Homo sapiens: one gene and its partners. Each later gene encodes a partner of the first gene's protein in a complex. Each region holds a gene or a part of one and is shown in the gene's direction. Other genes may lie near its edges. The genes, in order: STX7, VAMP7, STX5 and BNIP1.

Region 1 (7,023 bases):
GTGTATCAAGTCTATTGACAGGTACTTTTTAGTGTGAATAGAATCCCATAGTATAGATGTACCACAGTTTGTTTAACTGTTCACCTGCTGAGAGACATTGGGCCAGTTTTTGGCTACTATAAATAAAGTTGCTATAAACATTTGTGTACAAGTTTTTGTGTGAACATAATCTAGTTTTCTGGGTCAAATGCCCAGCAGTTATATAGTAGTTGGGTCATATAGTAGTTGAATGTTTAGTTTTTAAGAAATTGCCAAACTTATACCAAGTAGCTGTACTATTTTATATACCCACCAGTGGTGTATGAGTGATCTAGTTGCTTCATGTCCTTTTCAGCATTTGGTGGTGTCTCTTTTTTATTTTAGTCATTCTGATAAGTGTATAGTGACAGCTCATTGCAGTTTTGATTTACCATTTTCCCTTCGCTAATGGCAATGATGTTGAGCATCTTTGTTTCATATGCTTATTTGCCACCTGTATCTCTTCTTTAGTGACATGTTTCTTCATGTCTTTTCTAATTGGATTTTTTTTCTGTTGAGTTTTGAGGGCTTTTAAATAATGTGTGTGTGTGCCTCTGTGTGTGTGTGTGTGTATTTTTTTCTAGATACTAGTCCTTTGTTGGATGTGTGATTTGCAAATATTTCCTCCCAGTCAGTAGCATGTCTTTTCATTTCTCTTTTCTGGGCCTTTCACAGAGCAGAAGTGTTTAATTTTGATGAAGTCCACTCTATCCATTTTTCTTTTTATGGATCATGCTTCTGGTATCAAGAACTTTGCCTCTCTCCTTAGATCCCCCAAATTTTCTCTTTTATGTTGTTTTCTAAAAGTATTATAGTTTACGTTTTACTTTTAAGTCTATATTCCATTTTCAGTTAATTTTGTATAAAATGTGAGACTTAGGTCTGGGTTCATTTTTTTTGTTGTTGCCTATGGATATTCAATTACTCCAACATGATATTTGTCGAAAAGGCTCTTTTTTGTCCATTGAATTGTTTTTGCACCTCTGTCAAAAATCAGTTGAGCAAAAATGAGTTAATGAGAAATCAGTTGGGCACATTCGTGTGGGTCTATATCTGGGTTTTCTATTCTTTTCCATTAGACTATGTGTCTATACCTCCACCAACACCAAAATCTTGATTACTGTAGTAAGTCTTGAAATCAAATAGGCTGGTTTATTCCACTTTCTTTTTCAAAATTGTTTTAGCCACTTAGTTCCTTTGTCTTCCCGTATAAACTTTGGAATAATCTTGTCTGTATCTATTCAAATATCTTACTGGGATTTTGACAGGAACTATGTTATACCTATACATCAATTTGGGGAGATTTGACATCTTTACCATGTTAAGCCTTCCCGATCATGATCACAGGATCACTTCACTTCATTTCAGTTAAATTTTGTTTTCCTTCATCAGTATTGTGTGGTTTTCAGCATACAAGGTCTGTACATGTTTTGTTAGATTTATACCTAAGCAATTTAATTTTTGAGAGAGATTGTAAATGGCATTGTATTTTGAATTTCCTGTTCACATGTCTATTCTAAGTACATAGAAATAAAGTGAATTTTTCTATTTTGTATACTGAGACCTTATTGAGCCCACTTACTCATTTTAGGGGATTTTGATTGATTCCTTGGGATTTTTTTTTTATATAGATAGTCATGTCATCTGCAAATAATGAATAGTTTTATCTCTTCATTTCTGACCTATATTCCTTTTTTTTTTCCTTTCAGTCCCTTAATGCAGTGGGTAGAAATTCCAGCAGAAATAAAAGCAGTGAGAGTAGAGATCCTTGGCTTGTTTCTGGTCTTAGGCAGAAAGGATTCAGTGTTTCACCATGAAGTATAATGTTAGCTGTAGGTTTTTAAAGTAGATGCTCTTGCTAAAGTTAAGGAAGTTATCTTTTATTCCTTTTTTTCTGCAAGTTTTTATTATGAATTTTATGTTGAATTTTGTCAAATGCTTTTTCTGCCTTAATTTACATAATGCCATTTTTCTTCTTTAGCCCATTCATGTGGTAGATACATTGATTGATTTTTGAATGTTGAGCCATTGTTACATCCCTGAGATAAACTCCACTTGGTCGTGGTGTATCTTTGTATATATAGCTTAATTCTTTTGGCTAATATTTTGTTAAGGATTTTTGCATCTGTTTTAATGCGACATACTGGTTGGTGGTATCAGGGTAATACTAGCTTCAAAATGAACTGGAAAGTATTCCTTTCTCTTCTGTTTTCTAAAGCGGATTGTATAGAATTGGTGTCAGCGCTTTTTAAAACATTTGATAGAACTTTCCAATGAAATCATCTGGGCCTGGAGATTTTGGGGGAGGGAGTTCTTTTTATTGTAATTTCCACTTTTACAATAGTTATATGGCTGTTTAATTTATCTATTTCATATTGAGTTGTGACAGTTTGTATTTTTAGATGAATTAGTCCATTTCATCTAAGCTCTCAGATTTATATGTAGAGTTTTTGGTTGTATTTTTTGTTAGACTTTTGATGTCTGATATTCCAAAACTCCTTCATTTATCATTTCCTTTCTGTTTAGAGCACTCCTTTAGCCTTATTATTATTATTGTAGTTCCATTGGCAACAAATTCTCTCAGTTTTCTTTCATCTGAAAATGTCTTGATTTTCCCTTGATATCTGAAGAATATTTACATTAGACATAGACTTGTAGGTTTATAGTTCTTTTCTTTCAGCACTTGAAAATTGTTCTGCCACTTCCAGCCAAGAGGGGTGGCTCACGCCTGTAAGCCCAGCACTTTGGGAAGCCAAGGCGGGCAGATCACTTGAGGTCAGGAGTTTGAGACCAGCCTGGCTAACATGGCGAAACCCCGCCTCTACTAAAAATACAAAAATTAGCCGGCATGGTGGTGCACATCTGTAATCCCAGCCATTTGGGAAGCTGAGGCAGGAGAATCACTTGAACCCGTAGGCGGAGATTACAGTGAGCTGAGATCGCACCACTGTACTCCAGTCTGAGCAACAGAACGAGACTCCTTGTCAAAAAAAAAAAAAAGGAAAGAAAATTTCATGGTTCCCCATGAGAAATCCAGTTTTTTAAATTGTTTTGGTCCCTATAGATAGGTGTCATTTGTCTTTTTTCTTTTTCTTTTTTTCCTTTGTGTTTAGTTTTTAGTTGTTTAACCATGATGTATCTTGTAGATTTGGGGGGTTTATTATATTTGAGGTCTTCTCACCATCTATATGTTTATGTCTTTTGCCAATTTTGGGGAGTTTTCAGCTGTCATTTTTTTCAAGAACTTTTTCAGTCTTCCTTCTTTCTTCTTTCTTTTGAGACTCTGATGACACAAATGTTAGATTTATTGTAGTTCCGTAAGTCCCTGAGGTTCTGTTCATCTTTGTTCTGCCTGTTTTCTTCTGTTGTTCAGACTGTGTAATTTCTATCATTTTATCTTCAGATTTATTCATTCTTTCTGCAGTAGCTTCCATTCTGCTATTGAGCCTATCAATTAAGTGTTTCATATTGATTCCTGCATTTTTCAATTTTAAAATTTCTGGCCCTTTACCGAAAATGTTGGTTGACCCCTGGAGTATAAACCTATACTATAGAAGAGAGTATCAATTTTTTTTTTTTTGAGAGGATCAATTTAAACAAAAGTTGGTCTCTTTAAATAAATAAAGTACACATAACTTGGTGAAACCGATTTGGAAAAAAACAGAAGACATAAAAAATTTAGGAATGAAAGTACAGATAAATAACCAAACATAGATTTTAAAATAATAAGACACTATAAACAACTTTATGCCAATATATCACAAAACAGAAAATGAATAATTTATATGAAAAATGCAAATTACCAAAATCAACTACGAAGTAGATGATTTCTGCTTCCTGCCATATGGTTGACTAGGTATACTCAAGGATCCTCCTGCTAAAATACAGTTAGTTCTTGGATAAAATACAACACACATAATATTAGTTCATTTCCTGGCTCATTAGAAAGAAAGATAATCACTAAAGGCTATTACCAATGAGAGTGGGCTAAAATTAAAGTAGTTGAGAAACAGGAAAACTGTGCCTCTGAGACTTAAGCCATGGACTCCAGGCAAAGTAAAGAAAGTGAACCTAAGATTCCTTCATAAAACCAGGAATGCTTTAAAGCATTAAAGTAGTCCTAAGTCAGTGGACTCTGGTGGTTACTCTAAGAAGTGGATGAAAATCCCCTCCGAAGGAAAGCCTCCCTAATTAATGCTTCTAGATTAATCAAACATGCAAGGAAACACACCATTTGCATTGAGAAACAGTAGATTTAGATATTCAAGGAATTCAGGTATTGCAATTAGCAGAAGTAGAATAACAGTTATATGTTTAAATAATGTATGAATTAAAACGAACATGAAATGAGAGATGTGTTAAAAGGCAGATATTAAAAAGAACCAAAGACAACTTAGGTATGAAATTTAATTATTGAAATATATAACATAATGAATGGTTTAAGAGCAGATTCACCACAACTAAAGGAATTGTTGACTATCAAGTTTTAACTGAGGAAACAACATATTGCAGCAAAAACAGGTAAAGGGATAGAAAATAAGAATTAGAGATTATGAGACCTGAAGGATAGAATGGGAAGGTTTAATATGTGCTGATTGGAGTCTAAGAAGTAAAAAATAGAAAAAAATTGAGGTAATTGCTGACAAATTTCCAGAGCTAAGAAAAGCCTGGGACCTGGTATGGTGGCTTATGCCTGTAATCACAGCATTTTGGGAGGCCAAAGCAGAAGGATCACTTGAAGCCAGGAGTTTGAGATCAACCTGGGAAATGAAGCAAGAGCCCCCACTCCATCTCTACAAAAAAAATTAAGAATTAGCCAGATGTGGTGACATGAACCAGTAGTCCCAGCTACTTGGGAGGCTCAAGTGGGAGGATCACTTGAGCCCAAGAGTTTAAGACCAGCCTGAGCAACATGGTGAAACTCCATCTGTACAAAAAATACAAAAATTAGCCAGGCATGGTGGCACACACCTGTGGTCCCAGCTACTCAAGAGGCTGAGGAGGGAGGATCACACGAGCCCAGGAGTTCAAGGCTGCAGTGAGCTATGATGGTGCCACTGTACCCTGTCTAAAAAAAAAAAAAGTGGATCCACATATACAAGAAGCAAAATGTATATCAACCAGGAAAAGGAAGCCAATGTATATTCATTATACTCAAACTTCAGAACAATAAAGGCAAAGATATCTTAAAAGCAGCCAGAATAACTTATCCACTTTTAAAGGAATAACGAATTGACAGACCTTTTTTTTTTTTTTTTTTTTTTGAGACAGAGTCTTGCTCTGTCACCCATGATGGAGTGCAGTGGTGTGATTTCTGCTCACTGCAACCTCCATTTCCCGGGTTCAATTGATTCTCCTGCCTCAGCCTCCCGAGTAGCTGGGAGTACAGGTGTGCGCCACCACAACCTGGCTAATTTTTTTGTATTTTTAGTAAAGACGTGATTTTGCCATGTTGGCCAGGCTGTTCTCGAACTCCTGACTTCAGGTGATCTACCTGCCTTGGCCTCCCAAAATGCTGGGATTAGAGGCATGAGCCACTGCACCTGGCCAACAGTAGACTTTTCAGTGCCAAAACTGGAAGGCAAAAGACAGTGGAATAACATCATTAAGGTACTGAGAGAATAACTCAATAGAATGAGTGCCCAGTGAAATTATCTTTCAAAATCAAGGGTATATTAAAAACACTTTTTTCTCAAAATGAGAATTTACAAACAAGGGACTTTCACTTAAGAATAAAGATGAATTTTAGAGTACAGCAAAATGACTAGGAGGAAAGTCTGAGATGCAAGAAGGTATGGTGAGCTAAAAAATCAGTAATCATGGGAAATGTAAATAAATACTGTCTATATTAAGAAGTATTTACTCTGTGGAGTAAAAAAGAGCGTAATTAAAATACTAGCAACATTTTACATAACTCAGGAAATGTATATGTGGGGAAAGTGTCCGGGAGCACTTAGAAGTTAGTGTGAGTGCTCCAAGATCCTGATACTCTTTAGGATGGAAGTTAAGATAATGAATGACTTTAGATGTTGTTAATCTAAGTACTTAACAGAAAATTTTCAGATAACCTTTAAAGAATAGCAATACAATATAACTTTCAAACCAGTAGAGAGGAAACATTCTGAAATAAGGGAAAAACACTTTAGAAATCCCAACTTTGATAGACCACAAAAATGCAAGAAGGAAGAAAAAGCATAGAAAAAGCAAAGAAATGGCATAGTATATAATAAATGGTTACAATAAATATAAATTGCCTATCTCACCAGATTAATAAAAAAAAAAGTCTACCTTGTTCAATATATACAGTTTACAAAAGACAGTACAAGGACAGAGAAAGACAAAAAGTAGAATTAGGGAAAATAAAACAAGCAAATATACCTGGTTAGGATAGCTGTATCAGTATTAGCCTTACAAATATTAAAGTGAAAAGCATTAATAAGGATAAGGAGACTCTCAAAAATAATAAAAATTTCAACTGAAGTAGGTATAACAGTTCTAAACAAAGTTATTAAAGTAAAAATGTAGAGGGCAAAACGGAAAAAAAAACTATTATGTTGTATTTGAAGTCACTCAATTTTTAGCTCGAGCAGCAAAAAAGTAAATAGAACAACATGGTAACCAAAGTTGATTCAATTAATACATAAAGGATCATGTTCCCCCAATTTAGAGCATGTGCATATTTCTTAAGCATGTATAAAAGATTTAGAAGGAAAATGATAAAGGAATGTTTTGGGGACCTCTGATAGGGAAAGATTTCTTAGAAAATCTGCAAAAGATATTAACCATAATCTACATAAAGTCAACTGTTTTATTTCAAGCCTCTCTGGAAATAGTTTTGTTGACTGATAAGAAACGCTCTATGTCAGTCAGCTAATCAATGTCTAGTGAGTCTAACTCTTTCCACTACACAGTAAGTTCCATCTTAGGGTGTTTTACTTAAAAGCCTGGTGTCAAATGTTACACGCACAAAAACTTATTAGTATCTTTTTAACCAATGTATCTTAG
Region 2 (7,023 bases), on another chromosome or scaffold:
GGTTGGTAAGCTATTAATTATTGCCTCAATTTCAGAGCCTGTTATTGGTCTATTCAGAGATTCAACTTCTTCCTGGTTTAGTCTTGGGAGGGTGTATGTGTCAAGGAATTTATCCATTTCTTCTAGATTTTCTAGTTTATTTGTGTAGAGGTGTTTGTAGTATTCTCTGATGGTAGTTTGTATTTCTGTGGGATCGGTGGTGATATCCCCTTTTATCATTTTTTATTGCGTCTATTTGATTCTTCTCTCTTTTCTTCTTTATTAGTCTTGCTAGCAGTCTATCAATTTTGTTGATCTTTTCAAAAAACCAGCTCCTGGATTCATTGATTTCTTGAAGGGTTTTTTGTGTCTCTATCTCGTTCAGTTCTGCTCTGAGTTATTTCTTGCCTTCTGCTAGCTTTTGAATGTGTTTGCTCTTGTTCCTCTAGTTCTTTTAATTGTGATGTTAGGGTGTCAATTTTATATCTTTCCTGCTTCCTTTTGTGGGCATTTAGTGCTATAAATTTCCCTCTACACACTGCTTTAAATGTGTCCCAGAGATTCTGGTATGTTGTGTCTTTGTTCTCATTGGTTTCAAAGAACATGTTTATTTCTGCATTCATTTCGTTATGTACCCAGTAGTCATTCAGGAGCAGGTTGTTCAGTCTCCATGTAGCTGAGCAGTTTTGAGTGAGTTTCTTAATCTTGAGTTCTAATTTGATTTCACTGTGGTCTGAGAGACAGTTTGTTATAATTTCTGTTCTTTTACATTTGCTGAGGAGTGCTTTACTTCCAACTATGTGGTCAATTTTGGAATAAGTGCGATGTGGTGCTGAGAAGAATGTATATTCTGTTGATTTGGGGTGGAGAGTTCTGTAGATGTCTGTTAGGTCCGCTTGGTGCAGAGCTGAGTTCAATTCCTGGATATCCTTGTTAACTTTCTGTCTCATTGATCTGTCTAATGTTGACAGTGGGGTGTTAAAGTCTCCCTTTATTATTGTATGGGAGTCTAAGTCTCTTTGTAGGTCTCTAAGGACTTGCTTTATGAATCTGGGTCCTCCTGTATTGGGTGCATAAATATTTAGGATAGTTAGCTCTTCTTGTTGAATTGATCCCTTTACCATTATGTAATGGCCTTCTTTGTCTCTTTTGATCCTTGCTAGTTTAAAGTCTGTTTTATCAGAGACTAGGATTGCAACCCCTGCCTTTTTTTGTTTTCCATTTGCTTGGTAGATCTTCCTGCATCCCTTTATTTTGAGCCTATGTGTGTCTCTGCACATGAGATGGATTTCCTGAATACAGCACACTGATGGGTCTTTACTCTTTATCTAATTTGCCAGTCTGTGTCTTTTAATTGGAGCATTTAGCCCATTTACATTTAAGGTTGATACTGTTATGTGTGAATTTGATCCTGTCATTATGATGCTAGCTGGTTATTTTGCTCGTTAGTTGATGCAGTTTCTTCCTAGCCTTGATGGTCTTTACAATTTGGCATGTTTTTCCAGTGGCTGGTATGTGTTGTTCCTTTCCATGTTTAGTGCTTCCTTCAGGAGCTCTTGTAAGGCAGGCCTGGTGGTGACAAAATCTCTCAGCATTTGCTTGTCTGTAAAGGATTTTATTTTTCCTTCACCTATGAAGCTTAGTTTGGCTGGATATGAAATTCTGGGTTGAAAATTCTTTTCTTTAAGAATTTTGGATATTGGCCCCCACTCTCTTCTGGCTTGTAGAGTTTCTGCCGAGAGATCAGCTGTTAGTCTGATGGGCTTCCCTTTGTGGGTAACCCGACCTTTCTCTCTGGCTGCCCTTAACATTTTTTCCTTCATTTCAACTTTGGTGATCTGACAATTATGTGTCTCGGAGTTGCTCTTCTCGAGGAGTATCTTTGTGGCGTTCTCTGTATTTCCTGAATTTGAATGTTGGCCTGCCTTGCTAGGTTGGGGAAGTTCTCCTGGCTAATATCCTGCAGAGTGTTTTCCAACTTGGTTCCATTCTCCCCATCACTTTCAGGTACACCAATCAGACGTAGATTTGGTCTTTTCACATAGTCCCATATTTCTTGGAGGCTTTTTTCGTTTCTTTTTATTCTTTTTTCTCTAAACTTCTCTTCTCGCTTCATTTCATTCATTTGGTCTTCAATCACGGATACCCTTTCTTCCAGTTGTTCGAATCGGCTACTGAAGTTTGTGCATTCGTCACTTAGTTCTCGTGCCATGGTTTTCAGCTCCATCAGGTCATTTAAGGACTTGTCTACATTGGTTATTCTAGTTAGCCATTCATCTAATCTTTTTTTCAAGGTTTTTAGCTTCTTTGTGCTGGGTTCAAACTTCCTCCTTTAGCTCAGAGAAGTTTGATCATCTGAAGCCTTCTTTTCTCAACTCGTCAAAGTCATTCTCTGTCTACCTTTGTTCTGTTGCTGGTGAGGAGCTGCGTTCCTTTGGAGGAGGAGAGGCGCTCTGATTTTTAGAATTTTCAGTTTTTCTGCTGTTTTTTTCCCTATCTTTGTGGTTTTATCTACCTTTGGTCTTTGATGATGGTGACATACAGATGGGGTTTTTGTGTGGATGTCCTTTCTGTTTGTTAGTTTTCCTTCTAACAGTCAGGACCCTCAGCTGCAGGTCTGTTGGAGTTTGTCGGAGGGCCACTCCAGACCCTGTTTGCCTGGGTATCAGCAGCGGAGGCTGCAGAACAGTGAATATTGCTGAACACCAAATGTTGCTCTCTGATCGTTCCTCTGGAGGTTTTGTCTCAGAGGGGTACCCGCCGTGTGAGGTGTCAGTCTGCCTCTACTGGGGGGTACCTCCCAGTTAGGCTGCTTGGGGGTCAGGGACCCACTTGAGGAGGCAGTCTGTCTGTTCTCAGATCTCAAACTCTGTCCTGGGAGAACCACTACTCTCTTCAAAGCTGTCAGACAGGGACATTTAAGTTTGCAGAGGTTTCTGCTGCCTTTTGTTCAGCTATGCCCTGCCCCCAGAGGTGGAGTCTACAGAGGCAGGCAGGCCTCCTTGAGCTGTGGTGGGCTCCACCCAGTTCGAGCTTCCCGGCAGCTTTGTTTACCTACTCAAGCCTCAGCAATGGCGGGCGCCTCTCCTCCAGCCTCGCTGCCACCTTGCAGTTCAATCTCAGACTGCTGTGCTAGCAATGAGTGAGGCTCCGTGGGTGTGGGACCCTCTGAGCCAGGCGCGGGATATAATCTCCTGGTGTGCTGTTTGCTAAGACCGTTGGAAAAGCGCAGTATTAGGGTGGGAGTGATCCGATTTTCCAGGTGCCATCTGTCACAGCTTCCCTTGGCTAGGAAAGGGAATTCCCTGACCCCTTGTGCTTCCCGGGTGAGGCGATGTCTCGCCCTGCTTCGGCTCACGCTCGGTGGGCTGCACCCACTGTCCAACAAGCCCCAGTGAGATGAAGCCGGTATCTCAGTTGGAAATGCAGAAATCATCCGTCTTGTGCGTTGCTCACGCTGGGGGCTGTAGACTGGAGCTGTTCCTATTTGGCCATCTTGGAACAGGAATCAAAGGAAATTTTTTAAAAATCCCATTTATGATAGCATCAAAAAGAGTACAATAGTTAGGAATAAATTTAACCAAGGATGTAATAATGTGCACACTGAAAATTATAAAACATTGATGAAAGAAATTCAAGAAGACACAAATCAATGGAAAGATACCTTATGTTTATGGATTGGAAGAATCAATATTATTAAAATGTTCATACTGCCTGAAGCAATACACAGATTCAACACAATCCCTATTGAAATTCCAATGGCATTTTTCACAGAATAGAAAAAAAAATTCTAAAATGTGGATGAAACTAGAAGACATTATATTAAGTGAAATATACTAGACACAGATAGATAAATACTGTATGATTTCACTTATATATGGAATCTAAAAAAAATGTTCAGTTCATAAAAGCAGAGAGTAAAACAGTGGTTGACAGTGGGTGGGAGACCTGGAGAGATGTTGGTCAAAGTGTATGAACTTACAGTTGTAAGATGAATAAGTTCTGGATACCGGACATACAGCATGGCAACTATAGTTAATAATAATGTATTGAATATTTGAAATATGCTATAAGAATAGATCTTAAGCATTCTCACCACATACCCAAAAAAGTAACTATGTGAGGTGATGGATATTTTACTTAGCTTGATTGTGGTAATAATTTCACAATGTGTACATTTATCAGAATATCACATTGTATACCTTGAATATATACCATTTTTATTTGCCAATTATACTTCAAGGCAGAAAAAAATAAAATTAGAGTAGAAACAAAAGCTTGGAGGTCTGAAATGTTACTAAAAGTGTAACATTTTCCTTTTTTCAATATTCTTGCCACATGGTGGGTAGGTCCTTTTAGTCTGAAGATTCAAGTCTGTCTTATTTGGGGGATATTTTCTTCAATTAGTCCCTTGATTATTGATCCTTCTCTTTTGGCTGTATTCTCTCCTGTGACTGCTAATAGGTGTGTAAATCAGTACCAGGCACATAATAAGCACATGTTAAATATCTGTTGATCGTATAAATTGATCCTGGATTTGCTTGATCAGTTTTCCGTGTATCTTACATCTTCTTTCATGATTTACAACCTAGACATTTTGCTGTTTTCAGAACAAATTTTTTGAATTGTTACTGCAGAAGCTGCTTTTGCTCATTTATGTTCTGCTTTTAAAAAATTATGCCATTTTATTAAAATATAGTTTTTGGAATGTTGTCATGTTATCTAATTTTTTATGTCCTCTGATGACTTTGTTTAAAATTAGTTCAATTATGTCTTGTATCTGAGGATACTTATTAGAAATTTTTTTATTACTGTTATTCTATCTTGTTTCCCATATTAACTTTGTTCCATTAAGGACTGTTTGTCCCCATTGCTTTTTTTGTCTCCTCACTTTAACTGCTGTTTCTTCTCAAAAGTTCTAGTCAATGCATATATTCTATTCAACATATATATTTAGCTCTAGATGTAATCAGTTTTGGTATGTGCCTCCAGGTGGCATCCTGTGCAGTCTTCATGAAGTGAAACCCAAAGACTGGTGCCCCTGTCAGTTGTTCTACTGCAGAGACTTTGTGGAGTATGTGGTTGGAGATGAATCTATGGTTAAGGGAGTGGATTTTTTAAAACCAATATGTGAAGTATAATATACATAAAGTGCATCAACTGTAAGCATACAACTTGTTGTGTTTTCACAAAGTAAACATACCATGTAGAACCAACACCCAGATTAAGAACTAGAGCACGAACAGTACCCCAGAAGCTCCCTTCTCCCTTCTTTTAGTCACTACTCTTCTCCAAAGGTGGCCACTGTCCTGATTTCTCCACATAGATTAATAAAACATAGCAGGGGCCGAGAGTGGTGGCACACACCTATAGTCCCAGCTACTCAGGAGGCTGAGGTGGGAGGATCGTTTGAGCCCAGGAGGTCAAAGCTGCAGTGAGTCGTAATTGTGCCACTGCACTCCAGCTTGGGCGACAGAGCAAGACCCTGTCTCAAGATAAATAATAAAATATAGCAGGTATTCTGTTTATGTCAAGTTTCTATTGCTCAAAATGATGTTTGTGAGATTCATCTGTGGTAAATTGTATAAATGTAGTAGTAGATTGTGAATTGTCATTACTGTATTGTATTCCATGTTATGACTCTCCTGTAATTTATGCATTGCACAGTTGATGGGCATTTGGGTGGTTTCCAGTTTAAGGTATGAAAAGTAGTGCTGTCCAAAACATTTTTTTATATGTCTTTTGGTGAATTTGCATACATCTGTGGGACCATACCAGAGTGGATTGCTGGATTATTAGGGAGTTTTGTTGGTTGGTTGTTTGCCATTTTGTTTTAAACTCCTTGTGTCCTGGTGGGAATTGTTCAGTAGATACTGAGAAATTGATGATGCAAAAGAAAATGGATAGCAGAAGGAATGAAGTTCTATGGGTTTTGGCCCTCACAAAAGTAAATACATATCTTCCTACAGAAATCAAACAGGTTTTTATGGCTCAAAGCCCCGGAATTATACGGGGCAGAATAGGCGAATGTGCTTGCAGTCAGCTGGCTTTAAAAGAGCCTTTCTTATTGGAAGTATAGAGAGGAAAATTCTTTTCCACTAGCGGGAAGAACCACTTCTGGTGCTCAACATCATGTGCATTGCTGCAGTGGAGAAGAAAAAAGAGGGAAGCGTTTTCATTGGGCTCATACTGCTTATGATAGGCCTGGCAGAGTCTTGCTTTTGGCAACTATTGAGTATGAATGGCCAGTCTCTACTTGTAAAGAGAGGTCATTGGACTTAAATGGAATTAATGGAAGTAAAATGTTCTCAGGTTGTTACTGCAAATCATTCATGTAGTCAGTGCCAGGGGTTAAACAATTCTCGCCTCTTTTCTAGTCTGTCACCTTCAAAACTACCAGCAGAAATCTTGCTCGAGCCATGTGTATGAAGAACCTCAAGCTCACTATTATCATCATCATCGTATCAATTGTAAGTTTTTGTCCTTTTAGTGTATGGCTTTATTTTTCAATCTCTAAGAAATTAGGTACTAGAATTATTTCTCAATGATTAACACTCTGAAATGAGCTACATATGTCTTTTAATAGTGAAACACATGACCAGGCAGTGGCTTTCCTATGAAGTCACTATGAAATATCTCTACTTAAACCCCTCCTTCCTATTGAGAATTATTATATATTCTCAATAGGAAGAGATCTATAAAACTGACCTCACAGAAATGTAGTTATTTTAAATAAAGACATTTCTGGTTTATATGTAATGGGTTTATTGTTTTTATTTTTAAATTAATTATGTATTTTTAAAGTTTTAATTTCTAATATGGCAAATGCTGATAATTATAATCCCCCTTAAACAAGAACTCTTTGGAGTCCTCAGTAATTTTTGAGTGTGTAAAGAGGTCCTAAACCACAACTTTAAAAACTATTGCTAACAGGTGGGGGGTGCTTTACCCTGTTCATGGTCAGATAAAGTTGCCTTTCCTCCCCATCCTCCAGTCATGTCCAGAAGCCCAAAGTTACCTCCAAGCAGATAACTCTGACCCTGC
Region 3 (7,664 bases), on another chromosome or scaffold:
CTTTTGCCACAGGTCAGGCAAGTCGATACAGAGCCCGAACCCAGCTAGGGAGGGTTGGCAGGTGTGAGAAAGAACATAGGCGCAGGCTGTGCAGATCCTGGGGAGAGACTTGCTTGGACTTCTCGGGAGGGATATTTTAAGCAAGAGACTGACATTTAGTGCCTGAAACTCAGAGCAAGGAACCCAAGAAGTTGGTGTTTGACTTTGACCAAGCCCTAAATTCAGACCAGCCCTAGTAAGCAACTCAAGATTCAGACAGACCAGTACAGCCAGATGCTAGACATAGCTGTGAACAGCAAAAGCACTCTGGAATATCACAGAGTTGATTTCTAGCTGTGGTTGTAACATAGCTGAGTGGCAAATTAGTTTCTCAGCGCTTCTATTTCCTCACTTGGTAAACCCTCACCCTGTTGAGAAAGTTGAATTAACAGATTAGGAAGCTGGAAGCTGTCAAGCCCTGCCTAGAGCCCAGTGACCTAGAGGCTTCCTTCTAAACTGGACTGTTAGTAGGGAATCTGGTTGATATGAGTTTGGGGCCTAGAGAATACTTTTATACTTTTTTTTTTCTTTAAACATTAGTCAACTGTAGTAGTAAGGAGGAGAGAAAGATTAGAACAAGGAGTTTAAGCACTTAAAAAATCCCAACTCTATCCTTTCTCTGCAGCACCCTCATCACATGTGTGGATTCTGGGATTCTCAGAGTCTGGCATGACAAGGACAAGGACACATCCTCTGACCCAGTGAGGCTCCCCTGCCCTGATGGTTGGGGGAGGTGGGCTGGGGTAGGTGCCTAATGATCACGCTGGGGAAGGGAGGATTAAGGACTCTGGAACGGACTCTTATCTCCTATTCTTTACAGCTCCTGGAACTGAGAGTGGGCCCTGGGGTGTGTAGGATGCGCCAAGACCCAGCACACCCCCATGTGGTTGCCACAGGTGGGAAAGAGAATGCTTTGAAGATATGGGACCTGCAGGGCTCTGAGGAACCTGTGTTCAGGGCCAAGAACGTGAGTGACAAGAGTGTGAAGGAGCTGTTCCTGAAGTCGAGGGAGGCTGAGGCCACTGACGATGCATTAGAGACTAGATGGACTTAGGGGGCGAAGGAGGGCTGAAAACAGGGGCACATCGAGCCCCCCATAGCCCTGTCCTCCATCTGCCCACCCCACCAGGTGCGGAATGACTGGCTGGACTTGCGGGTTCCCATCTGGGACCAGGACATACAGTTTCTCCCAGGATCACAGAAGCTTGTCACCTGCACAGGGTACCACCAGGTAAGGTGTCACCTCACACCTGCCTTCTCCTGGGATAAAGCAGCCTCCTGGAGAAATGGCCCCCACGGTTTGACACAACTGCTCTTCTCACCATTCTGAGTTCAGAGGAGCAAGCGCTTCCCCGTCTGTTCCAACCCTGTCCCTGAGCCCATGACCTTCCTCTACTGTATTCTAGGGTGGAGTTTCCTGAACTATGCCTGTTTTCCTCCCACCTGGAAGAGAGGAAAGGAGAGTGGATCCCCTTCACTGTGGGAATTATAGGGTGCAGGTGTCAGAGGACATTGGGCTGGGTGTTAAGAGAACTGGGTTCTGGTCCTGATGCAGCCTCTCTGATTTGCTTTGGGACCCAGGCCTGAGCCTCCCATCTCTGGCCTCAGCTCCTCAGCTTTACAGGAAGGGCCCGAATGGGGAATCTTTATGGTTTGTCTCATTTGAGGTCTTGAGACACGGGCGGGGCTGGGTCACTGTATTTGTCCTATTTTCTTTGCTTCTGCACATTGAAGTCTGATCTTGGTCATATGCCTCTGCTCAAAACACATATGAGGGCATCCTCTTTCCTCCTTCATTCAGGCTAACCCCTGCTTGAAATTTAGCACCTACTGACTACTAGACCAACTTGCTTTTCTGTCCCTCCATTTCCCCTAGATGGGAGTATGGGGGGATGGAATGCTCACACACTTCCAACCTAGGGGACCTCTCCCCTCAGCTCTGTCCATTTATGCTGCTAAGCAGCTCTCCTGACACCCTGATGCTCAGAGAAGAGGCATACATCTAAGATGAGAAAGTTTCTGGGAGTGGATCATAAATAAGAAAGCAGTGTGCAGGGAGGGGGTGAGGATGCAGAGACGCCAGAGGGTAGGTGCAGGGTGAGGATACTTTTGTGATGCTTCAGCCTTCCTCTAGGTCCGTGTTTATGATCCAGCATCCCCCCAGCGCCGGCCAGTCCTAGAGACCACCTATGGAGAGTACCCACTAACAGCCATGACCCTCACTCCGGGAGGCAAGTGAGTGTTTAGAGGGGAAGGGGTGGGAGGGTGGGGCTTGAGAAGGGCTCCAGGAGGTTACTGCTGATCCCACTTGCCTCTGGTCTCATCCTCAGCTCAGTGATTGTGGGAAACACTCATGGGCAGCTGGCAGAAATTGACCTTCGGCAAGGTGAGTGGACTAGGGTACATTGGGGGAAAGGAAGGAGCAGGGAGAAGGGTCAGGATTCCCTCTAAGGTGGTGCAGTGGGGCCAGTGAGGCCTCATTCAGGTGCCAGATTGCCTGGGTTTAAATCCTGGTTTCCCTAAAAGCTGTATGACCTTAAACTAATTATTTCAACTCCCTGTGCCTTAGTTTCCTCACCTGCGAAATGGAAATATTAGTAGAAGCTCCAGTCTCAGGGTTTTGTTGCAGATTAAATGTTGAAATGGAAAGTGATTGGAACAGGAAACAATGAATGGTTGGTTATTGGCCAGCCAGTTATCACGGATGCTTCCCCCCTTCTCTAGGGCGTCTACTGGGCTGTCTGAAGGGGCTGGCAGGCAGTGTGCGTGGGTTGCAGTGCCACCCTTCAAAGCCTCTACTAGCCTCCTGTGGCTTGGACAGAGTCTTGAGGATACACAGGATCCAGAATCCACGGGGTCTGGAGCATAAGGTAAGTTGTCTCTCCCACCTCCAACTCATGGTCTTGTGGAGGCCCCGCCTCCTGTGCCCTCCGTTCATGTTTCTGTCTCAGCATGCCTGGCTCCTTAAGGTCCCTCATCTTTTGCAGGTTTATCTCAAGTCTCAATTGAACTGCCTCCTCTTGTCAGGCAGGGACAACTGGGAGGTGAGCAGTTGGGCCCGGGAATGTGGGAGCCAAGGGCATAGATGTGAGGACCTCCCTATGGAGAGGAAAAGGAGGCAGCTGGAATGCAGACTTGGGACTATCTGTTTACCTGCCTGGTCACTTAATTTCTCTGAGAGGCATTAACAGTTAAAATCCTGAGAGGGTTATTGCCAACAGCATGGATGGGGTTGCTTTCTAGGAGCAGGGAATAAAGGTGGTGGTACCCAGAGGGATTCTTTCTCAGCCAGGGTCTCCTTCCCTGTGGGTTTGTCCCTGTGCCCCTGACTACTTTTCTTTTTTTTTTTTTTTTTTTTTTTTTTTAAACTTCTTTTTGTGGAGATGGGGTCTCCTTATGTTGCCCAGTCTGGTCGCTAAGTCCTGGGCTCAAGCAATCCTCCTGCCTTGGTCTCCCAAAGTGCTGAGATTACAGGTGGGAGCCACCGTGCCCGGCCCCCCTGACTCCTAAGCTTTCTTCCCACTCACCAGGATGAGCCCCAAGAGCCTCAAGAACCCAACAAGGTGCCCCTAGAAGACACAGAGACAGATGAACTTTGGGCATCCTTGGAGGCAGCTGCCAAGCGGAAGCTCTCGGGTTTGGAGCAGCCCCAAGGAGCTCTCCAAACGAGACGGAGAAAGAAGAAGCGGCCTGGGTCCACCAGCCCCTGACGCCCCTGTGCCCACTTTGTAAATAAACTGCTGAACACCCACCATGACCCTGAGCCTTTTGTGATGGGAGAAAGGAATGAGGGGTAGCTTGGGGTGGGGGCTGCCTGAGCTGGGGCGACGGGATATCTGATGTCACAAAAGCCGGGCCTGGAGGCAGGCAGGCTGGCGTGGGTGGCACGGAGTCCAGGGCCACGCGGGGCCATGGGCTGCTGCCAAGACAAGGACTTTGAGATGTCTGATGAGCAGTCCAAGGAGGAAGAGTCTGAGGACGGCAGGGAAGATGAGACCACAGACACACAAAGAGGGCCCAGGGAGTGTGAGAGGGGGCTTCCCGAGGGTAGGGGTGAGCTCAGAGGCCTCGTCGTCCCCTCAGGCGCCGAAGATATCGACTTGAACTCCCCGGACCATCCGAATCACAAGTCGAACGAAAGCCTTCTGATTACCGTGCTGTGGCGGCGACTATCCACGTTCGGTCGTCGGGGCTCCTCGCGGCCAAGCAAGAGGCAACCAGACCAGATTCGGAAGCAGGAGAGTCCGATCCGAGAAGGCAACCAGGAGGAGCCGGAGAAGGGATGACCCCAGACCTGCTCTCAGTCCGCCCCAACCTCCAGAGAATAAAATTTCTAACGTATACCTGCACGACCACTCTGGGGGACTGGGCGCGGACACCACCGGGCAGCTGGTTCTTTAAGGCTCCTTCCCGGAGGCGGGCCCAGCCCCCTGAGCGCCTGCTGTAGTACTCTGGGGCGGGGTCACGGTGGCGCCTTAGCCAATGGGAGGGCGGGATCGCTCTTGCGTTTGGGTGTGGGGCGTGTCTTTCGGGTCGCTGGGCTTGAAACGCGTGGGACCGCCCCCTCGTCACTGGGGGTGGGGTTACGTGTAGGTGACGTGGCCGCTTCCAGTCTTTGGTCGGGTTTCGGCGGCTTCAGTGCTCGGGGAGGAGGCAGTGACGGCCGGTGAGATTGGAAGTGGCGGCGGCGGCAGGCGGCAGAGGGGAGGTAAGATTCGCTTTAAGAGGGGATCTGGCCGCCGTGTCAGCTCTGGGGCAGTGGTTTTACGGGGGCGACGACTGGCGGGGGGAAGGGAATCAGGGGCGAGCGGGCAAGTCCTGCCGGCCCGGCTCCGGGTGAGCGAATTCCTTGCCGTCCAATCAGGAAAGCCTCTGTTGAGAGAGACGTCGGCCTTAGCTAATGAGTGGTTGAAGTCTTCCAGAAGGCGGACCTTGGGCGGGGGGTGGGACTTCCTGTTTCAAATAAACACCCAGAGGTTTTCCCCCTCCGCCCACCGAAGTGTGTCAGTCTTTGGAGGTCCGTCACTGGCCCTCCCGGAGGGGCCGAAGGAAACCGCGGAAACGAAAGGGCTGGGTTAGGGCCCGGGGCAGTTACACGGGCCGGGCCGGAGTCTCAGGACCACGGGGTTGGCTCTGGCCCTGTCTCTGCTTCAGGGTCCCCGGCCCGCGCTCTGGCCGCCAGAGCCAAGTTGGAAGAAGAGTCTGAAGCGGGTTCGACTTGGGACAGGGGAAAAGCGGGGCCCTTTCCGCTGCTGGTCCGCCCCAGGATTTGCGAGCGTCCTGGGCGCGAAAGTCCACGAGAAGTGCAGAAGGGGCTCGGGGATTTGTTGATTGGGGTGGGGCGGGGGAGTTTGGGTAAAGAAGTTGCCTGGGGAATGACACTCTCCCCTCCACAACAGTCCGAGGTTATGCGTCTCAATGATCCCGCGGAAACGCTACGGGTCTAAGAACACGGATCAGGGTGTCTACCTGGGTCTCTCAAAGACACAGGTCCTGTCCCCTGCAACTGCTGGCAGTAGCAGCAGCGACATCGCCCCTCTGCCCCCCCCAGTGACCCTCGTCCCTCCCCCTCCCGACACCATGTCCTGCCGGGATCGGACCCAGGAGTTTCTGTCTGCCTGCAAGTCGCTGCAGACCCGTCAGGTAAGGACCTGGAGTGGAAAAGGCGAGGAGTGAGCCTTACTCAAATCTAGGAAGGACTGTGCTCCACCACTGTTAACCGAAGTAATTTTGGGGGGTACCTGATGGAACTGATAGGCTTGGATGGGGCCTGTAGGGTCTGCTATAAGCAACAGAGAAGAGGTCGGCTGGCTAACTAGGGGCAAGGACTTAGACTTTTTTTTGTGAGGAATCCTTTGGAGGGCAGGATTGCTATTCTGGAGGGAGTACTTCAGAGAGTACTTGGCTGCAATATAATTGGTGTGAATAAGGAACAAGTTCTAGGAAGAGCCTTTAGCTGAGAAACATGCACCTTGAATTTTCCAATATACTTCTACCATAAGTTTGCTCTGTAACCATGAGAAAATTAGTTAATCTAGTTACATATTAGTTTTTATCTCTGTAAGATTAAGGACATTTTCTAGATAAGTAATTTGTTGTTTTTGTTTTGTTTTGAGATCTGTTTTTCAACTCTGTCAACAGGCTGGAGTGTAGTGGTGTGATGATAGCTCACTTGCAGTCTTGAACTCCTAGACTCAAGGGATCCTCTTTCCTCAGCCTCCTGAGCAGCTGGGACTACATGGATGCACCACTCAGCTAATTTTAAAATTTTTTCGTACAGGCAGTGTCTCACTATGTTGCCCAGGTTGGTCTGGACACCACACCTGGCCCTAGATCAGTAATTTGTATCAAAATCACTTAGGGTTGGATGTGGTGGCTCATACCTGTAATTCCAGCACTTTGGGAGGCCTAGGCCAGAGGATGACTTGAGGCCAGGAGTTAGAGACCAGCAGGAGCAACAAAGCAAGACCCTGTTTCTACAGGAAAAAAAAAAAAAAAAGCTGGACGTGGTGGCATGTGCCTGTAGTCCCAGCTACTTAGAAGGCTGAGCGAGGCCCAGTCTCTTCCTCTCTCTCTTTTTTTTTTTTTTTTTTTTTTGAGAAGGAATTTTGCCTTGTCGCCCAGACTGGGGTGCAATGGTGCAATCTCGGCTCACTGCAACCTCCTCTTCCTGGGTTCAAGCGATTCTCCTGCCTTAGCCTCTCGAGTAGCTGGGATTACAGGTGCCCGTCACCACGCCCGGCTAATTTTTGTATTTTTTTTTAGTAGAGATGGGGTTTCACCATGTCAGGCTGGCTTTGAACTCCTGACCTGAGGTGATCTGCCCTCCTCAGCCTCCCAAAGTGCTGGGATTACAGGTATGAGTCACCACACCTGGCCTCTCTCTCTCCTTTTTTGGAAACATGGTCTCACTCTGTCACCAAGGCTGGAGTACAATGGTTCTATCTCATCTCACTGCAACATCTGACCTCCTGGGCTCAAGCAACCCTCCTGCCTCAGGCTCCTCAGTAGCTGGGATTATAGGCATGTGCCACCACATCTGGCTAATTTCTGTTTTGTTAGTAGAGATGGGGTTTTACCATGTTGCCCAGGCTGGTCTCGAACTTCTGGGCTCAAGTGATCCGTCTGCTTTATCTTCTCAAAGTGCTGGGATTACAGGTGTCAGCCACTGCACTCAGCTCCTCTTAAAAAAAATTTGGGAGTGCTATTTATTTATTTATTTATTTATTTATTTTTGAGATGGGAATTTCGCTCTTGTTGCCCAGGCTGTAGTGCAGTGGCACGATCTTAGCTCACTGCAACCTCCGCCTCCCGGGTTCCAGTGATTCTCCTGCCTCAGCCTCCCAAGTAGCTGGGATTACAGACATGCGCCACCATGCCTGGCTAATTTTGTATTTTGAGTGGAGACGGGGTTTCTCCATATTGGTCAGGCTGGTCTCAAACTCCCGACCTCAGGTGCTCTGCCCGCCTCAGCCTTCCAAAGTGCTGGGATTGCAAGCGTGAGCCACCGTACCCAGCCGGGAGTGTTTTTTTCAACAATCCCAGTGGGACCCGAGTAAGCAGTTTGTGTTTGTTTGTTTGTTTGTTTGTTTGTTTGTTTTTGAGACAGTCTCTCTTTGTTGCCA
Region 4 (7,512 bases), on another chromosome or scaffold:
TTTCATGTGAGTGACATTAAGGCCATCAGGAAGCAAAGGGGAGGGGCATGGCCTCCCATGGACTGGTTCTGCATCAGGACTTGATCTCTAAAGACCACTGCTCACAGGATCCTCTGTCAAGATCTTGAGACTGTTAAAGGGCTGGGTGAGCCAGACCAGTATAGTCCTTAGGAAACTAAACCTGTGGATAGCATCCAGTTAGCTGGGTCATTCAGCTGGTGAGCTGTTTAGCCACAGTACAGTGGAGAATTTGAAAGAAAGAAAATGGCTGGGAAATGCTATAATATCCCAGCTAAAAGGTTCAGAGCAGGAAGAAGGTGTTAGAAAGCCCTAGGGGAGGGAGTGGCATTCCTTAAGACTCTGCTAGGTGCTTTTTTGTTACAGGAAACTCAGCTGCTACTCTCAAGCGCCCAATGAGGCTGGTGGTCATGTTCATTTTACAGGAGACAAGACTCAGATGAGGAGACTAGCCCCAGACCTACCTTATATGATTATAGAGCTCCAATTCAACTCCAGTCGGCTTGCTGCACTACAGAAATAATTTGTATTCATCTCTTTGGGATCAGGTCAAGTCACAGGCAATATTTGGAAGGATGTCTCTGTAGCGGGGGATAAAGGCCTTAGAATCTAAAAACCAAAAAGAAAGCCAAAACCTAGCAGATAAACAAAAGCTAGTCTAAGGATCAGTGGGTAAAGGTGATAGGGGAAGCAAAACAGAGTTGAGAGGAATCAGTGATTGCGTGTAATGATCACCAGACTGCACATCTGTTCCTCGAAGATGGCCTCTAGCTTAAGGTTTAGGATTGGGTCCCCTTATTGGAAGGAAGTATATTGGAGGGTAGAGAAAAAGGGAGCTTATGTTTTCTTCTTTAGCTGCAGCATAAGAGATGCAACTGGGGACTGTTGATTGCATATGAATATTCAACAAGAAGCATGATGTGAACGGGGTCCCAAGGGCACGTCTGCAGGTCTGCCAGCTGCTGGCTTTGGGGCTTCTCTGCTGTCCTAAACAGGGGGCTTCTATGTGAGTATCCAAAACACTGGAGTGACCTGAAGAAAGTAAACCTCAGTTTCTTTAAAAGGTTTTAACCTGAAAATATTACCAGGAATAAACTTAACAGAAAATGTATACAAGGCCTAGGATAAAGAAAACTTTGAAAGTACTGTGAAGGACACAGAAGGAAACTGGAATAAATTGAAAGATACACCAAGTTCTTACACAGGAGCAGTGACATAGAACTAACAGTGGTAAGTTAAATTAAAAATATAATATTGCTAAAAAATGTCATCCTAAGAAAACATACCAAGAGGGTTTAAAAAAAAAGTTTACACAGGGATAAAATAGCTGGAAGATGCTGGTAGGCAGTGGGGCTGAGGGGGCAGTGATGCAGGGGACAAGGGGAAGAGTTATTTAATCCTAGCAGATACTAAAAGTCGTTATAAAACCATAATAGTTAAAACTAATTTTGATACATGAATAGGCCAGTCAAGCAGAATAGAAGGTCTAAAAGTAGACTCAAACATATACGACAATTTAGTATGGCAAATGTGGCATCCAGAACCAGTGAGCAAAAGGTAGACTCTTCATTAAATAGTATTGGAATAACTAAGTAACCTCCGGAAAAAGTAAAATTGGGTCTATATCTCACACCATAAGCCAACATATATTTCAAAATAGATAATGATCTAAGTGTAAAAAAAAAAAAAAGCTACAAAAAACCACCCATAAAAACACTACAAGGAAATGTGGGCAATCCCTTTAAATCCCTGTAATTTGGACCACGAATCCAGGAATCATAAACGAAGATTGATAAATTCAATGTAAAACAAGATTAACAAAAACCATAAGCTAAATCAAAGTTCTATAGACTTTTTAAGGCTGTAGATGTCTTTAAAAAAAAATGAAAATAGAAAAGCTTTGAAACTCATCTCTAAGGACTAATCCTCCTAATATATAGAGTTCCTGGAAACGGATATGAAAAAAACCAACAACCCAATAGAACAATGAGCAGACAATAGAATAAATGCAAATAGCTCTGAAGCATAGGTAGAGTTTCTCAGCCTCCTTCATGATCAGAAAAGCATAAACTAAAGAAGGCATTTCTACCTAATCAGATTGGCAAAACTTCCAATGTTTGTTAACCTATCCTGTTGACAAGGCCACGGGAAACAGGCATTTATGCCATGTTGCTGGAGGGAGTATGGATTGACATAATCCCTATGAAGAGCAATTTGGTAATATGTCAGAATTTTTAAATGCATATATCCTTTGACCTAGCAACTCCATTTGCTCTGGGCAAGTCATTATTCCTCTCTGCCCCGTTTTTACCTCACAGAGTTGTTGTAAGAGTTAAGCGAGACACACATGAAGCGCTTAGTACAAAGTTCCTGGCACATAGGAAGTGCTCCCAAAATGTGGGCTAGTAGTAGAATAACAGCAGCTAACGGGCATTGAGATCTTACTATATGCCACATTAGCACACTGTGCTTGGTGCTTTTCATGTATTTTCTCATTTAATTCTCCAACCTGTGAAGTAGGCGCAATTGATTATCACCAGTTAGCTTCCGAGGAGACAGAGGCACAGGCATGCGAAGTGTGTGGTGGACAGGATTTGAGCCCAGGCAGATGCCAAGCCTGTGATACACTGCCTCTCTATTAGGTGCAGTGGGGTGATGAATACCTTACGAGAGGGTGTGTAGAGGGCTGTAGGGACACAGACAAGCACATAGCCCCGCTTACAACAGGTGGGGACCATATTGATTTTTTGGGGAAAAGATGGCTTTCAGTAGAGGCTGTGCCACTTTCTTTCTTTCTTTTTTCTTTTTTTTTTTTTTTTTTTGAGATGGAGTCTTGCTCTGTCGCCCAGGCTGGAGTAGTACAGTGGGGCGATCTCGGCTCACTGCAAGCTCCACCTCCTGGGTTCACATCATTCTCCTGCCTCAGCCTCCCAAGTAGCGGGGACTACAGGCGTCCGCCACCACGCCCGGCTAATTTTTATATTTTTAGTAGAGACGGGGTTTCACCGTGTTAGCCAGGATGATCTCGATCTCTTGACCTCGTGATCCACCCGCCTCGGCCTCCCAAAGTGCTGGGATTACAGGCATGAGCCACCGTGCCCGGCCTAGGCTTTGCCACTTTCAAGATAGGTAATCTTGCAACAGGGTTGATTGTTTTTTGTTTTAATTTACTCTAAGCCCTACTCCTGATCTGTGATAATAGTGTAGTACAATTTCAAGGGTGGTTGTGAGGATTAAGAGAGATGAACATGGTCGGGCACAGTGGCTCACGCCTGTAATCCCAGCACTTTGGGAGGCCGAGGCGGGTGGATCACGAGGTCAGTTCGAGACCAACCTGACCAATATGGTGAACCCCGTGTCTATGAAAAATACAAAAATTAGCTGGGCATGGTGGCACGCACCTGTAATCCCAGCTACTCAGGAGGCTGAGGCAGGAGAATTGCTTGAACCTGGGAGGTAGAGTTTGCAGTGAGCCAAGATTGTGCCATTGCACTCCAGCCTGGGCAACAGAGCGAGACTCCGCCACAAAAAAAAAAAAAAAAAAAGAGAGAGAGATGAACATTCAAGTCCTAAGCCTTTAGGTCCTCACAATCTATGCTTGCTGAAGTGACCCGAACAAATGCAGATGGAGTGGGGTCGAGTGGGGGAAACGCTTTCTAGGGAGAGGGAACACCACATTCTAAGGCTACACATCCAGAAGGAGCTTGAGCAATCCAGGAAGGGCGCAGGGTGCGGTGGCTGATGGCCGGGGTGGCTGATGGCCTTGAGGACCAGCTAAGAAACTTGGATTATTTACTAACAAAAATAAAAGAGCCACCATTTGTTGAGGGTTTGCTCTGACATTTCCATCAAAACTACCTTAGCAAGGTAGATTTAATAAATCCAGTTGTATACAAAAGGGAAACACGAGAAGCCATAGAAGGGCTGCATACAGGTAGGTGACTTGATCAATTTCGTGTTTTACAAAGATCCCTTAGATCATGTGTTGGAGTGATAGGAGGTACTCTACCGACCTGCCTTGAACTCCATACTTTAAAAAATATATGACGTTTATCATTTCCTCTTTTACTCCACAATTTATACTCACTGTAGAAAATATTAAAAATATAAGAAAGTTTGAAGAAACAAAAAATTATTACTGGTACTTTCCAGAGACATCTCAATTGATACTTTTCTTCCAGTCTTTTTTTTTCTATGTAAAAAATATATAGTTATTAGAATGCCTGACAGAAGGAAGATGGAAAGAGACCACTGTGAAGCGTTCTTGATATTCCCTCTTCCCTTCCTCTCCATGTTATTAGGGCCATACCAAGAGGAGAGGCTGATTTCCCTACACGTGTCAGGGAAAGTCCCAACTCTGCGCAGTGACCCTCGCTTGCCATTTTCGCCGGTCTCTAGGGGGCGCTGCCCCGAGACTGGGTGGGGAGGGAAAGAAGGTGGTGCGAAAACGCGTTTGAACTTGGGTCCTGCCGCTGCCCGTAGCCGGCGTCCCCAACATGGCGGCTCCCCAAGACGTCCACGTCCGGATCTGTAACCAAGAGATTGTCAAATTTGACCTGGAGGTGAAGGCGCTTATTCAGGTACTGATCCCGGGACCCCTGCCGGGCTCCAGCAGCCCTAACCCAAGCTCTGCTGGTCTGTGAGCTTGGCAGTGTCACTCCCGAACTTTCCCCACTTGGTTTCCCAGACCACAGGCTCCGCCCCATGGTCGGCTACCCCCCCGGTCCCCATTTGGTTGTGTCCCGGTGACTGCTGGCCTTGATCCTTTTTCCGGGTGCCGCCGGATCTCCCATCCCCAGAGCACCCCACTGTTCTCCGCCCCTGACTCAGCTACTGCTTCGGGGCTCGGCTTTGCCCCTTCCACCTGCAGCCCTGGTCGTCGCCCCGCCCCTGACTACCTCACAACCTACCTGTCACCCTGCTTGGCCCCGCCCTCTGACGCTGCTTCAGCATCCTCTGGTAGCGTCCGGGAGGCAGCTAGCCCCGCCCCCTGCTGGCCAGCTCTCCTGGCATCCAAGGCCACCTGGCACGGGAGGCACCGGGTGAAACGAATGTAACCTGGACCGTAGTTGTGATTTTATGCTTGAGGAAATCGAGTACGGCGCCAAGGCCTAGGTTAGAAGGCATACCTGGGTCAGTGGCAAAACTGGGACCTGGACTGTGAAAGTCAACCTAGGAATAACACCTTAGAGTGTTACCCCGTTTGAACAGATAGGAAATGAAGTGTTTCGCCTTAAGCCATTTAAGGGTAGAGGTAAAATAAACGAGTGGACTTAGGCAAGAATTGGGAGTGTAGACACGGTTCCATGAGTTCAGCAAAAAGAAACCGAGTTTTAAACCTTGTTTTTGCTTGTTTGTTTTTGTTTTTTTGAGACGGAGTCTCGCTCTGTCGCCCAGGCTGGAGTGCAGTGGCGCGATCTCGACTCGCGGCAAGCTCCGCCTCCCGGGTTCCCGCCATTCTCCTGCCTCAGCCTCCTGAGTAGCTGGGACTACAGGCACCCGCCACCACGCCCGGCTAATTTTTGTGTTTTGCTTAGTAGAGACGGGGTTTCACCGTGTTAGCCAGGATGGTCTCGATCTCCTGACCTCGTGATCCGCCCGCCTCGGCCTCCCAAATTGCTGGGATTACAGGCGTGAGCCACCGCGCCCGGCCTAAACCTTGGTTTTTAAAAATAATCATTTTCAACAAAGTCACTAAACATTAGATGTAGACTCAGAGTTTGTAACAAGGTGTGGCAAAAAGTGCAGGAAAATAGGGCTCCCCAGATAAACCAGATGCAGAATAAACCAAATTAGATGCAGAATAAACAAATACGGTGCAAAGAAGTGTGATTAAATGAATAAGCCAGAGAAAAAGTGAAATTTGATGCAGATATTTAAAACTTCTTGAACTTCACTTCTCTGATGTATACATTACAAAACTTCTGGGCCAATTATAGAAAAATAAACAGGTTTCATACAAATGAAATTACATTTTCACATAATCTAAATTGCTTAGGCATTCTTCTGTACTCTTTCTAACATTTGGGTTCTTGTCATTGCTGATGAGAAAGACTGATTATAGCTGGATGTATTGCGTTCTTACCGTTTTCCAGCAGCTCTGCTAAGTGCTTTACATACATACATAATCTATGATGTTCTATGAGGTAAGTAGTGTTGTGATAAGGAAACTCAGACACAGAGAATTTAAATAACTTTCCAGGTAACTTTACACAGCTCATAAGTTGCTACAGCCAGGATTCGAATCCACCTGGTCTGTCTCCAGAGCCTGCCGTGAAAGCTGGCACCAGTAATTCTGAATGTCCAGCAACAGATTCTAAATCTGCCCTTAAACATGTCTATATAAACACTCTAACTTATCACTAATGGTTTGTAAAATCACACTGGAGAAGTTAATCTCATCATATGATGCCAGATATTTAAACATCCTGATCTTCCAAGTTGGAAGGATCTAAGGTTCTAAAGTGATAGTATCACTTTTGCATGTCCATTCTTGTTGGGCATACAAGCTGTTTTAAGCTGTTTCCTACTGGCCAGGTAATGTTTTGTTAAAATTTAGGCACTAAAAATTAGGTCAAAGCAGTTGTGTTTCTTTCTAGGCTTTTATATTAATTCAACATTAATCTAAAAAGGAATGAGAAAAATGTAAATGATAATGTTTTTGCTTGTGTTGCAGAGGTAAACAGCAAAGATCAGGATGAATTATAGTTAGTATGTTAATATTAGTTGGTCTAAACCAACTCTATCACTGTATGGATGGTGTCATTTCATTTCATTGCCTTGAGAAAGGCCTTTCATCTGTTCAATGTCTCCTAGGATATCCGTGATTGTTCAGGACCCTTAAGTGCTCTTACTGAACTGAATACTAAAGTAAAAGAGAAATTTCAACAGTTGCGTCACAGAATACAGGTGGGTATTCTCAATTCAGTCAATGAAGGGGGCTCTGTCCTGGGTATATCCTCTGCTTGAGAGCCGTCTGGGTTCTTCAAACACCAGCTGATGGGAGCAGTAAACACTTAGACAGGGAGGGTGACTCTGTACTAACCTGCTCTCCAGGTAAAAACGAGAAACTTTTGGCCGGGCACGGTGGCTCACGCCTGTAATCCCAGCACTTTGGGAGGCCGAGGCGGGGAGATCACGAGGTCAGGAGATCGAGATCATCCTGGCTAACACGGTGAAGCCCGTCTCTACTAAAAATACAAAAAATTAGTCGGGCATGGTGGCAGGTGCCTGTAGTCCCAGCTACTCAGGAGGCTGAGGCAGGAGAATGGCGTGAACCCAGGAGGCGGAGCTTGCAGTGAGCCGAGATCGAGCCACTGCACTCCAGCCTGGGCGACAGAGCGAGACTCTGTCTCAAAAAAAAAAACAAGAAACTTTTGCATGCAGAACACTGCCAGCTGTGTGAACGAGTGAATGGCAGGAACACCATTATCCTTGGAATTTTTGAAATCCTGGGGCCACTTCAAATACTTTCTCTTCTCTGCCATTCTTTCT

What was found.
Region 2: STX7 (region 1) and VAMP7 share a complex: the UniProt entries of both Homo sapiens proteins name them as parts of the SNARE complex.
Region 3: STX7 (region 1) and STX5 share a complex: the UniProt entries of both Homo sapiens proteins name them as parts of the SNARE complex.
Region 4: STX7 (region 1) and BNIP1 share a complex: the UniProt entries of both Homo sapiens proteins name them as parts of the SNARE complex.

Annotation. Positions count from the first base shown.
Region 1 is NC_000006.12:132,447,097-132,454,119, reverse strand, and holds part of STX7 (syntaxin-7), read left to right. Parts: 3' UTR 1-7,023. UniProt on the Homo sapiens protein: May be involved in protein trafficking from the plasma membrane to the early endosome (EE) as well as in homotypic fusion of endocytic organelles. Mediates the endocytic trafficking from early endosomes to late endosomes and lysosomes.
Region 2 is NC_000023.11:155,933,345-155,940,367, forward strand, and holds part of VAMP7 (vesicle-associated membrane protein 7), read left to right. Parts: intron 1-6,356; coding exon 6,357-6,449; intron 6,450-7,023. UniProt on the Homo sapiens protein: Involved in the targeting and/or fusion of transport vesicles to their target membrane during transport of proteins from the early endosome to the lysosome. Required for heterotypic fusion of late endosomes with lysosomes and homotypic lysosomal fusion.
Region 3 is NC_000011.10:62,829,037-62,836,700, reverse strand, and holds the start of STX5 (syntaxin-5), read left to right. Parts: upstream 1-4,649; 5' UTR 4,650-4,747; intron 4,748-5,045; exon of another isoform or gene 5,046-5,250; intron 5,251-5,438; 5' UTR 5,439-5,457; coding exon 5,458-5,682; intron 5,683-7,664. Other genes in the region: WDR74 (WD repeat-containing protein 74), read left to right, coding at 665-782, 860-1,006, 1,169-1,270, 2,174-2,274, 2,370-2,425, 2,764-2,909, 3,027-3,083, 3,570-3,749; TEX54 (testis-expressed protein 54), read left to right, coding at 3,951-4,325. UniProt on the Homo sapiens protein: Mediates endoplasmic reticulum to Golgi transport.
Region 4 is NC_000005.10:173,140,032-173,147,543, forward strand, and holds the start of BNIP1 (vesicle transport protein SEC20), read left to right. Parts: upstream 1-4,499; 5' UTR 4,500-4,514; coding exon 4,515-4,598; intron 4,599-6,834; coding exon 6,835-6,927; intron 6,928-7,512. UniProt on the Homo sapiens protein: As part of a SNARE complex may be involved in endoplasmic reticulum membranes fusion and be required for the maintenance of endoplasmic reticulum organization. Also plays a role in apoptosis.